Linked DNA regions of Homo sapiens: all the other regions are reported to be linked to region 2. The links are microRNA targets in miRTarBase. Many come from high-throughput screens and were not tested one by one. Region 2 holds a microRNA gene; each other region holds the end of a gene's coding sequence.
Evidence for each region. The annotated mature microRNA hsa-miR-340-5p reads UUAUAAAGCAAUGAGACUGAUU and lies in region 2 at 1,279-1,300, shown strand. An mRNA with a match to its seed (bases 2 to 7 or 8) in the 3' UTR can be bound and repressed. Matches are read on the target gene's strand: a 7mer-m8 pairs with bases 2 to 8, a 7mer-A1 pairs with bases 2 to 7 and ends in A, and an 8mer does both.

Region 1 (3,246 bases), not on the chromosome of region 2:
TTTTCTAAAACATCACTGGCTTTTTGTGAGCCACTGATTATAAAGCAGAGGTGGCAAACCCTCCTTGCATAAAATATCACACTTGGGTAAGTGCAGTATGTTATGTGTCTTTAATAATGCCACATCAGCCCCAAGTATTTTTTTTTTCTCAAAAATTGCAGCCTGTGATTCTAACTAATCCAAGTTCATAGGAGGTTAAATCATTCTTCATTGTCTTTCACTCTTTAATAATGGGTAGTTCCTCTTTGAACCATGAACTTAAAAACACTTCTAAAAATTAAGAAACTGGCAATGAGTTTATTCCTTAACAAACACTGTGTTGGCATGAGGTGGGGAGGTAAATCACTCGCTACTTGATTTATCCATGTTGAGATCACACTAAGACAGTGTCCTGTTTCTCACACAGGTTACCTGCTACTTGGCCTTATTGCCATGTTGGTAGTTCTGGAAACCTTCTGTGAACTCCATGAGCTGAAAAAATTCAGAAAAATGTTCTATGTGAAGAAGGACAAGGACGAGGATCAGGTGCACATCATAGAGCATGACCAACTGTCCTTCTCCTCGATCACAGACCAGGCAGCTGGCATGAAAGAGGACCAGAAGCAAAATGAGCCTTTTGTGGCCACCCAGTCATCTGCCTGCGTGGATGGCCCTGCAAACCATTGAGCGTAGGATTTGTTGCATTATGCTAGAGCACCAGGGTCAGGGTGCAAGGAAGAGGCTTAAGTATGTTCATTTTTATCAGAATGCAAAAGCGAAAATTATGTCACTTTAAGAAATAGCTACTGTTTGCAATGTCTTATTAAAAAACAACAAAAAAAGACAAATGGAACAAAGAAGCTGTGACCCCAGCAGGATGTCTAATATGTGAGGAAATGAGATGTCCACCTAAAATTCATATGTGACAAAATTATCTCGACCTTACATAGGAGGAGAATACTTGAAGCAGTATGCTGCTGTGGTTAGAAGCAGATTTTATACTTTTAACTGGAAACTTTGGGGTTTGCATTTAGATCATTTAGCTGATGGCTAAATAGCAAAATTTATATTTAGAAGCAAAAAAAAAAAGCATAGAGATGTGTTTTATAAATAGGTTTATGTGTACTGGTTTGCATGTACCCACCCAAAATGATTATTTTTGTAGAATCTAAGTTAAACTTACTATTTATAATGCATAGGTAACCATTAACTATGTACATATAAAGTATAAATATGTTTATATTCTGTACATATGGTTTAGGTCACCAGATCCTAGTGTAGTTCTGAAACTAAGACTATAGATATTTTGTTTCTTTTGATTTCTCTTTATACTAAAGAATCCAGAGTTGCTACAATAAAATAAGGGGAATAATAAACTTGAGAGTGAATAACCATAGTATTCTGCTGCAATAAATGTTTCTACCCTCTTGCGATAGAATGGTGTCAGATGTCTAACATGTTTATAAACATTTTTTTGAATTGAACAGGTTATGAAAAGGATTTATTAAAAGGTTAAGATACTTTGTTTTGAAAGTACATTGTGATTTGCAGCCACCTAGCACTAAAGCATAGAACTTAAACACGAATCCCTAAATGAACAGATTATGTTACATTAATCTGAGAATTTTAAATTTAGAAGCTAAAATAAATAAAAATCACAGCTGGTTGTAATCTTATGCTTTCATATATCAGAAGTGTGCCTCTATGTAGAATATATATACATATGTGTGTGTATATACATATATATATGTATGTATATATATACATATGTATATATATATATATGTGTGTATATATATATATATATATACGTATATATATATATATAGTCCTTCATAGAAAACATAAAGGTCACATTTAGATGACGTACACAGGATACTATTATATTAAGGATTTTAGAAAAGAAAATGAGAAAGCCCCTGTGTGATAATGAATGTCCACTGACCCCCGCAATGGAGCCTTACCTCCCATGGGTGGCTGCCCAGGAGTTGGTGGTTGAGGGGCTGGTAAAAATCAGTGCAAAATCAGCGCCCTCTGATGAGCCAGCCAAGCACTTTGATCGCGGGCCAGTCTCCTGACAGTGGGTCACTCGCTCAGTAACCTTCTACCTTCTGTACCATGTGCTGCCATGAGTAAATTATTACCAACTGCAGGGCAAAGGGAAAGCATCCCCTTACCCTTCGGAAGATTTGCTGAAAAATCAACTCACAAAAAGGCAGATTAATGAGAAAAGGCATACACATTTATTAACTACCATGCACACAGAAAGAATTACAGAGTGATTGTCCAATATCTCAATAGGGGTTCACATGCTTAAATATCTTACTGATTAGAGGACAGGGAGATGGAAAAATATAGGTGATTTTAGAGGGATAGTATATGATTTTTAGAGGAATCCAAGTGTGCTGCCCCGTAAGCATATTTCCTCCCTGCTGACCATGTCCCTGCAATAGAAGACTGCTGTCATGAGGCCAGATCATTGGTTAAGGGTAGAATAGAGAATCCTTGGAGAATAGAGGCATGCATCCTGCCATAACTGGATCTGCAACATTTCCGATGGTCACAAGCCTTGGTGTGGAGCAGAGTCCTGAGATGCTCATCAATATAAATCACAGAAGCTGGATTACACTTGGAGAGTGTTATTCTATTTTATGCAATGCAGGAAAAAATAATGGCTAGTTTGCTACAGCTGCTTGGCTCTAACATGAGAGGGAAGTTCAAAGTCCAGAAAATGAGGAAGTACGTGAAGAAAAACTTCTGAATCAGATGTGATTAATAAGTAATAGAGTGTAGTACTTAATTTTAGGAACTCGTTTGAATCCGCAGAGAACACATTAAACCTTAATGCCCTTCAGATTGTTGTTAATGTGAAGGGCAAAGTAGAAAAGTAGGAGCAAGTTTTGCCTCGGCCCCCACCCTAGCAGGCAGGAAAGTAAGGGAGGATGTCTTCCCCAGGGTTTCTTTTTGTCTTTGGCCGATGATGCTGCCCTTTGGTCCCCAGGGAGAAGCGAGCTTGGTCACCCAGGAGGAGCTCTGGGTCAGCCTCTCAGAGAACAGAAATTCGGCTTGCTGCAGGCATGACAAGGAGGTGGAAGATGAACAGTGTAGCTAAGCCAGAACTGACCTTGGGAACCCTTTAGTTGGAGGCGAGAGAGTGGGAAGTTGGAGGTAAAAGTGACTACTAGAGAATTCTGGGTGATGAGTACAAGCTGAACTCACTTGCTTAGCTTGAGCCTTCAAGATTGAGTTCCTAAGATGCCTGCGGAA
Region 2 (3,000 bases):
GAAGTTCCTGTTAAAGAATAACAGTGGGGGAAGTTTCTCAAGAAAATAGTTGGAAGCAGGGATCACAGATGGGCTTTCACTGGATTGCCATCTCTGACAGTTAGTACTGGCGGCCAGACGTGGAAGTGCGTGGGAGCGTGGCCGCATCCGTGACTTACTAGCAGTGTTTGCCCAGGGCCTGGGACATGGGAGTGGTGGGGCATGTCCCAAATGTGCTTTGATATTTACAGCGTTACAGTCTAATTATTCTTCACTCTTTTCAGTCACTGCCTCCTCTGACCGGCCCTTTATTGTGAAGCCTACATTTCCTTTGGCGTGAAACTGGGCCAGAGCTCCTCAGATCCTTAAAAGTCAAGTGTCTGAGGCAGCTTTAGGTCAGGGTCTTTGAGCCCTATCAGGCTTTAGGGGTGGAGTATGGGGAGAAGGCCCTTTCTCCTAGGAGGGGACTCCTATATAACTTTCGCCAGATTCTGTAAAAGATTTAAGACCTAAAACTCCAGTCCTTTGCAAGTTGGTGGCGGGCTTTCGTTCTGCTGTCCTCCTGCCCGATCGGCAGGGTCGGGCTCCTCTGCCCGGCTCTTCTCTGTGCTGGTGTAATGACGCCACCGCGAGCGGCTTCTCTTCCTAGTCCAAAAGGTTCCCCCTTTGCTCCTGAGGGCGTGTGGATTTTTGCATCAAGAGCAGGTAATTTTCTACTCTCTTTAAGAGGTGAAAGGAGCCTGATCATAGTATGTGCTCAATAAATATTGTTGAATGGATGGTTGAAATAATTACACACTTCTTTTCCCAAACAGCTTTCCCGTTGAAATTAGTTGGTGTTCTTATTTAGTGTTCTTTGAATAGAATCACATGGATTGGTTTCCTTGGCTACCTGTTCAGCTTTCCTTTCCCTACTCCTTTCCCTACTCCTTTCCTACTCCTTTTCCTACTCCTTTCCTACTCCTTTCCCTACTCCTTTCCCTACTCCTTTCCTACTCCTTTCCCTACTCCTTTCCTACTCCTTTCCTACTCCTTTCCCTACTCCTTTCCCTACTCCTTTCCCTACTCCTTTCCCTACTCCTTTCCCTACTCCTTTCCCTACTCCTTTCCCTACTCCTTCCCTACTCCTTCCCCTACTCCTTTCCTACTCCTTTCCCTACTCCTTTCCTACTCCTTTCCCTACTCCTTTCCTACTCCTTTCCCTACTCCTTTCCCTACTCCTTTCCCTACTCCTTTTCCAGCTTGAGTCTTCAAGAGGGAGCCTCAACTGATTTCTAAAACCGTTTGTACCTGGTGTGATTATAAAGCAATGAGACTGATTGTCATATGTCGTTTGTGGGATCCGTCTCAGTTACTTTATAGCCATACCTGGTATCTTATACCACAGATCATGGCCCGTTGAACAACATTTTAAGAGATTTCTAAAGGGAAATTTAAAGCGGTTTAGCATTATTTTGTGATTGTCTCTAATTTACTGATCACAACTCTTATTTCAGAAAGGTAATTAGATATTAATTAGATGTTTATTGCTTGCTTTAATTTTATAGTTTTTTGTAGATTTTTAATCGGTATTCTGGTAAACTGCTGTTCTAATAAAGTGGCTGTAACAATTTTGAGTAAGGTAGTAAAAAGGTATATGTTCCATTGGGTTACATTTTCCATAAAACTCCTTTTACTGTTGTATTTCTCTTCTTTTTTTTGAGGGTCTTGCTCTGTCACCCAGGCTGGCGTGCAGTGGCGTGATCTCAGCTCACTGCAGCCTCAACTTCCTGGACTCCAGTGATCCTCCCACCTCAGCCTCCTGAGTATCTGGGACCACAGACATGTGCCACCATGCCTAGCTAATGTTCCTGTTTTTGTGAGAGACAGGGTTTCACCATGTTGCCCAGGCTGGTCTTGGACTCCTGAGCTCAAGCAATCCACCTGCCCTGGCTTCCCAAAGTGCTGGGATTATAGGCATGAGCCACCACGCCCAGCCCTGTTGAATTTCTTTTCAGTTGCGTGTAGTCTTCTGTGACTGCATGTAACACAAAGATGGTTCTTTTAGCTAAATATGGTAAATGAAACATGTAAAACCAAATATTTCAATGTGTTATTCATTGAAGAAGGATTGAAAAGGACAAGTTTTGGGGACTTCTGCTTGATTGTTTTGTTGGTTTACATTGATATGTACAAACCTTATTCAAATTCAAATAAGTGGTTATAATTTTCTCTTTCCCAAAATAAAATATTTATTTCCCTTCTAATGACCCCTAGTCTCTCTCAGGGGCTCTCTGGAGAAGGCAAATGTAGAAGCTACATGTTGCCACCGGCAGCTTCAGCTTATGAAAGGACAATCGCTGATAGATTGATAGAAGTTTCTCTGTTTCCTTAAAAGACAGTGGGAAGTTATTTCCTTTGTGGAGGAGGAAAGGGATAGCAGTTTCCTGCTGTCCATAGGAAGAGGTATTCAATTCCTTCACTGTTACTACTTCTGGAAATTATGTAGGGGAAAGGTCTAGGTAACTATAAGGCAACTTAAGACTGTCCTCGTAATTAACTTGCATAGCCTGTGCTTGTGGGCAGACCTCTGGACAACTGTTAGAGGCTGGAGGTATTTCGATGCCAAACTGGTCCAGAATGTTGAAGCCTGGACCTGTCTCTGGAACGTTTGATTTCCAGAAGAGTTCTGGGGTAAACTAGCAAGGAGCCTCAACTCCACTCAAGTCTGGACATAAGACCCAAGTTAGTTTCAGATGTCACTAATAAAAGGTGGCACCATTTGGCACTTTGTAGCTCTGTTACCAGCTGTGTGTCCCCTGTCTCAGTGAGATTAGAAAGCTTGGTATCCTGTACTTGTTTTTGTTCCTGGCACTAGTTCTACAGACAGTGGGTACTCCATGAATGTTCCTAGATTAGTGCAAGAAGTACCAATTTATGCTATAAAAACAGCACTTTACTCCATTTCTTAAGGAATTAAGACTTTCTGAAGATCATTTTAAAATAGAAAAGGTTTTACAGTGTAAATCTACCATGATGTTG
Region 3 (3,000 bases), not on the chromosome of region 2:
GCACAGAGGTGATGCTGGATCGGCCTGACTCCTCACCTGTCCTCCCCTCTCTGTCCCTCCAATTGCTCAACCATAGATCAGGAAGCCTCCTCCCAGGCCAGCTGAGATGCAGAGGCTCAGCCATGAGTTAAAAAATATAAAGTAAAAATACAAAAATTAGCTGGGCGTGGTGGCACATGCCTGTAATCCCAGCTACTAGGGAGGCTGAGGAAGGAGAATCGCTTCAACCCAAGAGGCGGAGGCTGCAGTGAGCCGAGATCACACCACTGCACTCCAGCCTGGGTGACAGAGCGAGACTCTGTCTTAAAAACAAACAAATATATATACATGTATATATATGTATGTATACATATATACATGTATATACACGTATGTGTACATATATACACGTATATATACGTGTATATACGTGTGTGTATATACGTGTATATACGTGTGTGTATATACGTGTATATACGTGTGTGTATATACGTGTATATACGTGTGTGTATATACGTGTATATACGTGTGTGTATATACGTGTATATACGTGTGTGTATATACGTGTATATACGTGTATGTGTATATACGTGTATATACGTGTATGTGTATATACGTGTATATACGTGTATGTGTATATACGTGTATATACGTGTATGTGTATATACGTGTATATACACGTATATATGTATATATACGTGTATATATACGTATATACGTGTATATATATGTATATATATAAAGTGGCAGGGTGCAGTGGCTCACGCCTCTCATCCCAGCACTGTGGGAGGCCGAGGTGGATAGATTGTTTGAGCCCAGGAGTTTGAGACCAGCCTGGGCAACATGCAAAACCCAGTCTCTACAAAAAAAAATGTGGCCAGGCATGGTGGCATGTGCCTGTGGTCCAGCTACATGGGAGGCTGAAGCAGGAAGATTGCCTGAGCCCAGGAGGTTGAGGCTGCAGTGAGCTGGGTTTGCGCCATTGCACTTCAGCCTGGGCAACAGAGGGAGACCCTGTGTCAAAAAATATATATATACATACATACATACATACATATATATATATATATATATATATATATATACACATACACATACATACATATATATATATATATATATATACATATATATACATACATATATATATTTAAAGTGCAAATGGCTTTTATTGAGGGCCTACTGTGTGCTGGGCAACATGTCTGCAAGGGTCCTGCTTTACCTCCCTGTACTTTGCACCGGCCAGGGAGGAGGGTGCTGGGGAGACCCAAACATCAAGCTGGGGGAGGGTGCTGAGGTGGAGGTAGAAGGGGGCAGAGGGGCCCCTCAGCTGAGTCCTTAGGGAGGGAAGGGATCCTGGGGTCTGCCCAGCTTGAAACAGAAGCTGGGGGCCACAAGGCCCTGAATCAGGCCAGGCAGGGTACAGGGGCCTGGGAGTCCTGCTCCTTTGCTGTGAGACCTTTAGGGAATGGGATCCATCTCTGAGTGGTTTCTCCCGATGAAAGACAGGTCCAGAGGGCAGAGTGGCCATGCCCAAGGTGGTGGCCAGGTCTGACAGGATCTGCAGTCCCTGCCAACAACCTCCTCCTCTGCTCTCTGGGCAGTAGTGGCCTGCTCCTGGACACTGCTTTGCAGTCATCACCTGGACCTGGTGGGACAGGAGGAGCAGGAAGAGAAAGAGAATTAGAGTCAGACAGAATCAGAGACAGACAGACACTGACAGATATAGGAAAACAGGGGCAGAGACAGACAGAGAGGGAAAAAGCTAGAGAGGGATGCGGAGACAGCTGAAGGTACAATTATAGACAGACACAGAGGCCAGGCACAGTGGCTCACGCCTGTAATCCCCAGCACTTTGGGAGACCGAGACGGCTGGATCATTTGAGGTCAGGAGTTGAAAACCAGCCTGGCCAACATGATGACACCCTGTCTCTACTAAAAATACAAAAGGCCAGGCGCGGTGGCTCACGCCTGTAATCCCAGCACATTGGGAAGCTGAGGCGGGCAGATCACCTCAGGTCAGGAGTTCAAGACCAGCCTGGCCAACATGGTGAAACCCTGTCTCTACTAAAAATACAAAATTTAGCCGGACGTGGTGGTGGGCGCCTGTAGTCCCAACTACTCGGGAGGCTGAGACAGGAGAATCGCTTGAATCCGGGACGCGGGAGGCAGAGGTTGCAGTGAGCTGAGATCATGCCACTGCACTCCAGCCTGGGCAAAAGAGCAAGACTCCATCTCAAAATAAATAAATAAATAAAAATAAAAATAGAAAAATTAGCCAGGCCTTGTGGTGGGTGCCTGTAATCCCAGTTACTGGGGAGGCTGAGGCAGGAGAATCTCTTGAGCCCGAGAGGCAGAGGTTGCAGTGAGCCAAAATCACGCCACTGCACTCCAGCCTGGGCGACAGAGCGAGACTCCGTCTAAAAAAAACAAACAAACAACAACAACAACAAACATAAAGGCAAAGCTAGAGATGGAGAGGGAGAGAGAAGGCTGAGAAGGGGAAAACAGCCCCAGACACAGTTATGCCATCAAAGGGGAGAGCAAGCCAAGGTCTACGGGGCTGGGGCCTCTTCCCGCCCTGGCCTCACCTAGAGCTCATCTCGGGGCTGGGGTTGGAGGCTGTGCCCGCTGCTGCCAGTCAGGTCCAGGCGGGGGCTGCGCAGGGTCTTTTGGGAGCCGCTCCAGCTGATGAGGCGGCCGCTGTCATCATCCCATGGAGAGGATGTCTCCGTGTCACTGAGCCACTCGGCGTCCCCGGCATAGTGGGTAGGGGCAGCGAGCAGGGGCTGGGCGGAGAAGGCCACCAGGTCCCGTGGCCAGAAGTGTGCCTTGTACTGCTCGCTGTAAGGTGAGAGGATAGCTCAGGGGGATTGAGGCGGGCCCCTACTCCCCGGACACATGCCTGCCCGGAGCCAGGCACCTTGCCTGCCCAAAGCACCTCACTCCCCGCCATCTAGTCCTCACAGCGGCCCTGAGCAGTGGGACTTCTACTACCTCCATTTTCCAGATGAGGAAACA
Region 4 (3,246 bases), not on the chromosome of region 2:
GGGTGTGAGCTACTTGACCTTTGTCTCCCTGACCTTGTGGTGTCTGAGGAGGCTGAGCCGTTTGCAGGCAGACAGCACTTTCCTGATTGGCATATGTGTTGTGTGTAAGAACAGTCAGTAGGGGTAGGGCTGGGATGGGCGGGGAGAGGCCTGTCTAGGAATGTTCCCATTTTATTTTGGTCTCCTCCCCACCCCTCACTATCCAGCCTTGTCAATCCTCTGCAGCTCCCCTCGCACCCCTTCAAAGGGGATTTCTGCCCACCCTTAAACAAGGTGGGACACTGTCTCTAGGACTTGGCTTGTGGTCAGGGGAGTGCACAGAGGATTCTCTTCTGCACCTCTCTGAGTCCCTGATGCTGAGGCCTGCTGGAGGGATGGGGAAGAGAGGTTGGCCTGAGACCAGCTTGCTCACCTGGGCTGCTGTCCACCTCCTGGGGTTCCACTTGCCCTTCCCTCATGCCCGTTGCCCTCTCCCGCCTGCAGGCTCTTCGGCTTCGTGGCCCGGAAGCAGGGCAGCACCACGGACAACGCCTGCCACCTCTTTGCTGAGCTTGACCCCAACCAGCCGGCCTCTGCCATCGTCAACTTCGTCTCCAAGGTCATGCTGAATGCCGGCCAAAAGAGATGAACCCTGCCCCTTGCCCAGGGCCAGTGCCATGGGGAAGGGGCTTGTGGGGAGGGGACCCATGAATCCTGACCACTCTTGAACCCAGAAGGAGGACTTTGGGCCAATTTCGGAGGAGAGAAGAAAGTGCAACGTGGGGAGAGGGAAGTGAATTGCAGAGGGGAGGGGGAAAAGAGAGAGAGAGAGAGAGAGAGAGAGAGAGAGAAAGATGGAGGAGAAGAACTTGGATTCCCCTGGGTAGATGGAAACTGCAAAAACCCAAAGCCTCCAAAACTAACCAGGTCCACCTAACACCCCCTCCCTCCCCTAAGAAGATGGATGTCCTCAAAAGAGAAGGAACAAACCTCCTTGGGAATCCACATTTTTTGGGGGAATGGAAAAGCTCTGTCTCCCTAACTCAACTGCTTTGCAAGGGGAAATCAAGCTGGGAGAATCTTTTTCTGGCCACCTGTGGGGTAGGTTGTCAAACCAAACAGAGCCACCGTGGGACATCAAGTGGAAGAACTTGTTTGCTTGAAAGTATCTCAGACCCAAGGCACCTCAGGTCTCTTTGCTGTGCCTCCACTATATTGTCGTGTGGGTGTGTGTCTGCACCCACATCCTCACACATTGATCTAGATCTGCCTTTATCCACTCGAATTATAAACAGCTCGGCTTGTCCTTGTCCCATGTGTTTGTAGACACACATGCATACTGTCCAAAGATTAGGGTTGGTGGTGGCAGTGCAGCAGGGGAGGGACAAACAACCAAGCTATGGGTGACAGAGGCTCTCTCCTGGTGCCTGCACCTGCACTCTAGTGACCCTGGGTGCCGCCAGACCCTTCTCTTCTACAAAGACCCCAGCAGGAGTGGGAGGGTCTGCAATGGCATCGCCCTGTCCTGCCTTGGCCAGAAGCCTGGAGCTTTGGTTTGAGGAGGTAGAGATATGTGTATCCATAGGAAGAGATCTGTCAGAACAGGCAGCTGTTGAGCTCGGGGTGTCTTCCCCAAGGCATGTGGCTCAGCAGCAAGAAAGGCAAGTTGCTCCTGCTGGGGCCCTGGACTCTGCCTTAGCTCCCACCTCTCAGCCTTGTTATTGGGTTTCATGCCCCTGGACCAGCCTTATCTCAGACCTGCTTACCTGCATGATGCCTTTTTGGGGGCTGGGGATTGAGTCTTGCTGCTCTGCCCAGCCCTGTTCTATTCTGCAGGGTCCCTGTGTTGGAATTCTCCCTGGGGAACCTACTTTCTGCTCAGTGAGGCTCCGGCCAGAAACCTGGAGTCCTTATCCTCCCCTCTGTAAGTGTTTTAGGGTCTGGCTTTTGCAGGCACCCTCTGACCTCAGCAGAGCTCCTGGGCCTGCTGCCTGCACACCACATCGCCTACCTACAATGCCAAAGCCTCACTGTCACCCTTTCTGCCTTGGTTTCCCTAGCTGAGCCACGCTGCCCATGCAGCAGAGGGCAGAAGGCTTGCACTTGGGCCAAAGGGCCTAAGGTCCACTGGACAGTTGGGAAAACACCTGACCACCATTTAAGGACTCTAAGCCAGAATGGAAAATTCACCAGGACTCCATTCTTAAGCCTATGCGAGTCCCCTAGAGAGAGGCATTGTACTGATATATAAATATTATATAATATATACATGAGACATACTGACAGAATCTGTAAGCTAATAAAATGTAAGAAAAGGTTAAAAAAAGAATAGGTAAATTGACAAGAAGTATTTATTGTTTTTCCATATTGCTTTATTGCCTTCCTTGGGGATAAACCAATTCCTATCCTTTTTTATATGTGTAAGTAAAGCCTGAAGTGTAGGGGGCCTTTGTTCTTGAAGCAGCCAGGGTCTCCTTGCCCTGGCCTTGGCCTTCCCTAGACTGTGTGGGGCTCAGCATTGGGAGGGGTTGCACATGTCCCAGCCTTTGGCCCCCTTACTTTTCAGCAAGCCAGGGGCCCAGCAGTCAGCTCCCAGGATGTGTGGGGAGCTGTCCCTGACTCTGCAGGCCTGAGCGAGTGTGTGAGCATGCGGGGACATGGGTGTGTATGGCACACATAGGTGCGTGTGTGTCTTTTGTATTTTTTCTCCTCCAAGGAGCTGTGTCAGTGTGGACGTTCTGTTTCAGGGAGTTGGAAAGGAGGGTGTCTGCAGAAGGTGGAGAGCAGGGGCAGAGGCCCCACTGGCCACCCCCTGCTTCCCAGAGTGAAACCTTGTGCCTGGTGACCAAAGTCCCTCCAAAGTGCTCTTCCTTCTGGGTTATTCAAGCCAAATATCTGGGTTTCCCCCTCTCCTCATTCCCTAGCAAACCCCAATTATCTTCCAAGATAGGAGATATTTCCCATCCCCTTCCTTTGTAAATATCTCATCTCCCACTGGAGAGCCCAGGAGCCTATTCCTGGCATGGATGTTCTGTCCACACTTGAGGCTGGGCGGTGTATCAGACCCTTCAAGCAGCCTGGCTGGGGCCCAGGACTGAGTCTGGGGTCAGCTTTCACGGTCGCTTTTCCCTTCCTCACCACCCACCACAGCCCACCTTGCATGCATGGCCAGCCCCTCCACTCCAGCCTGAGCCATGTGTGCCCCTGCGGGAGGACCCATTCATGCCAGAAAGCTGGTAACTCCCTCCCAGCATCCCTGCGGAAGGA

Region 1: miRTarBase lists KCNK1 as a target of hsa-miR-340-5p. Seed matches in the 3' UTR shown: 7mer-A1 at 1,083-1,089, 7mer-A1 at 1,165-1,171, 7mer-m8 at 1,304-1,310 and 7mer-A1 at 1,439-1,445.
Region 3: the mRNA of CERCAM is a reported target of hsa-miR-340-5p. The part of its 3' UTR that is shown has no 7-base or 8-base seed match.
Region 4: the mRNA of TNS1 is a reported target of hsa-miR-340-5p. The part of its 3' UTR that is shown has no 7-base or 8-base seed match.

What each region holds. Positions count from the first base shown.
Region 1 is chr1:233,670,865-233,674,110 of GRCh38, forward strand. KCNK1 (potassium two pore domain channel subfamily K member 1) reads left to right here. Exons shown (of 3, transcript NM_002245.4): 3 at 407-1,650. The coding sequence ends at 666. Among named protein-coding and RNA genes, the nearest start is that of MIR4427, 48 kb to the left of the region's middle.
Region 2 is chr5:180,013,661-180,016,660 of GRCh38, reverse strand. MIR340 (microRNA 340) reads left to right here and starts at 1,264; the gene lies at 1,264-1,358. The region is part of intron 2 of RNF130 (ring finger protein 130); the gene reads left to right.
Region 3 is chr9:128,435,476-128,438,475 of GRCh38, reverse strand. CERCAM (cerebral endothelial cell adhesion molecule) reads right to left here. Exons shown (of 13, transcript NM_016174.5): 12 at 2,571-2,823; 13 at 1,129-1,627. The coding sequence ends at 2,571. Among named protein-coding and RNA genes, the nearest start is that of CERCAM, 16 kb to the right of the region's middle.
Region 4 is chr2:217,801,841-217,805,086 of GRCh38, reverse strand. It overlaps TNS1 (tensin 1), which reads left to right. Exons shown (of 33, transcript NM_001387777.1): 33 at 484-3,246. The coding sequence ends at 628. Among named protein-coding and RNA genes, the nearest start is that of DIRC3, 13 kb to the right of the region's middle.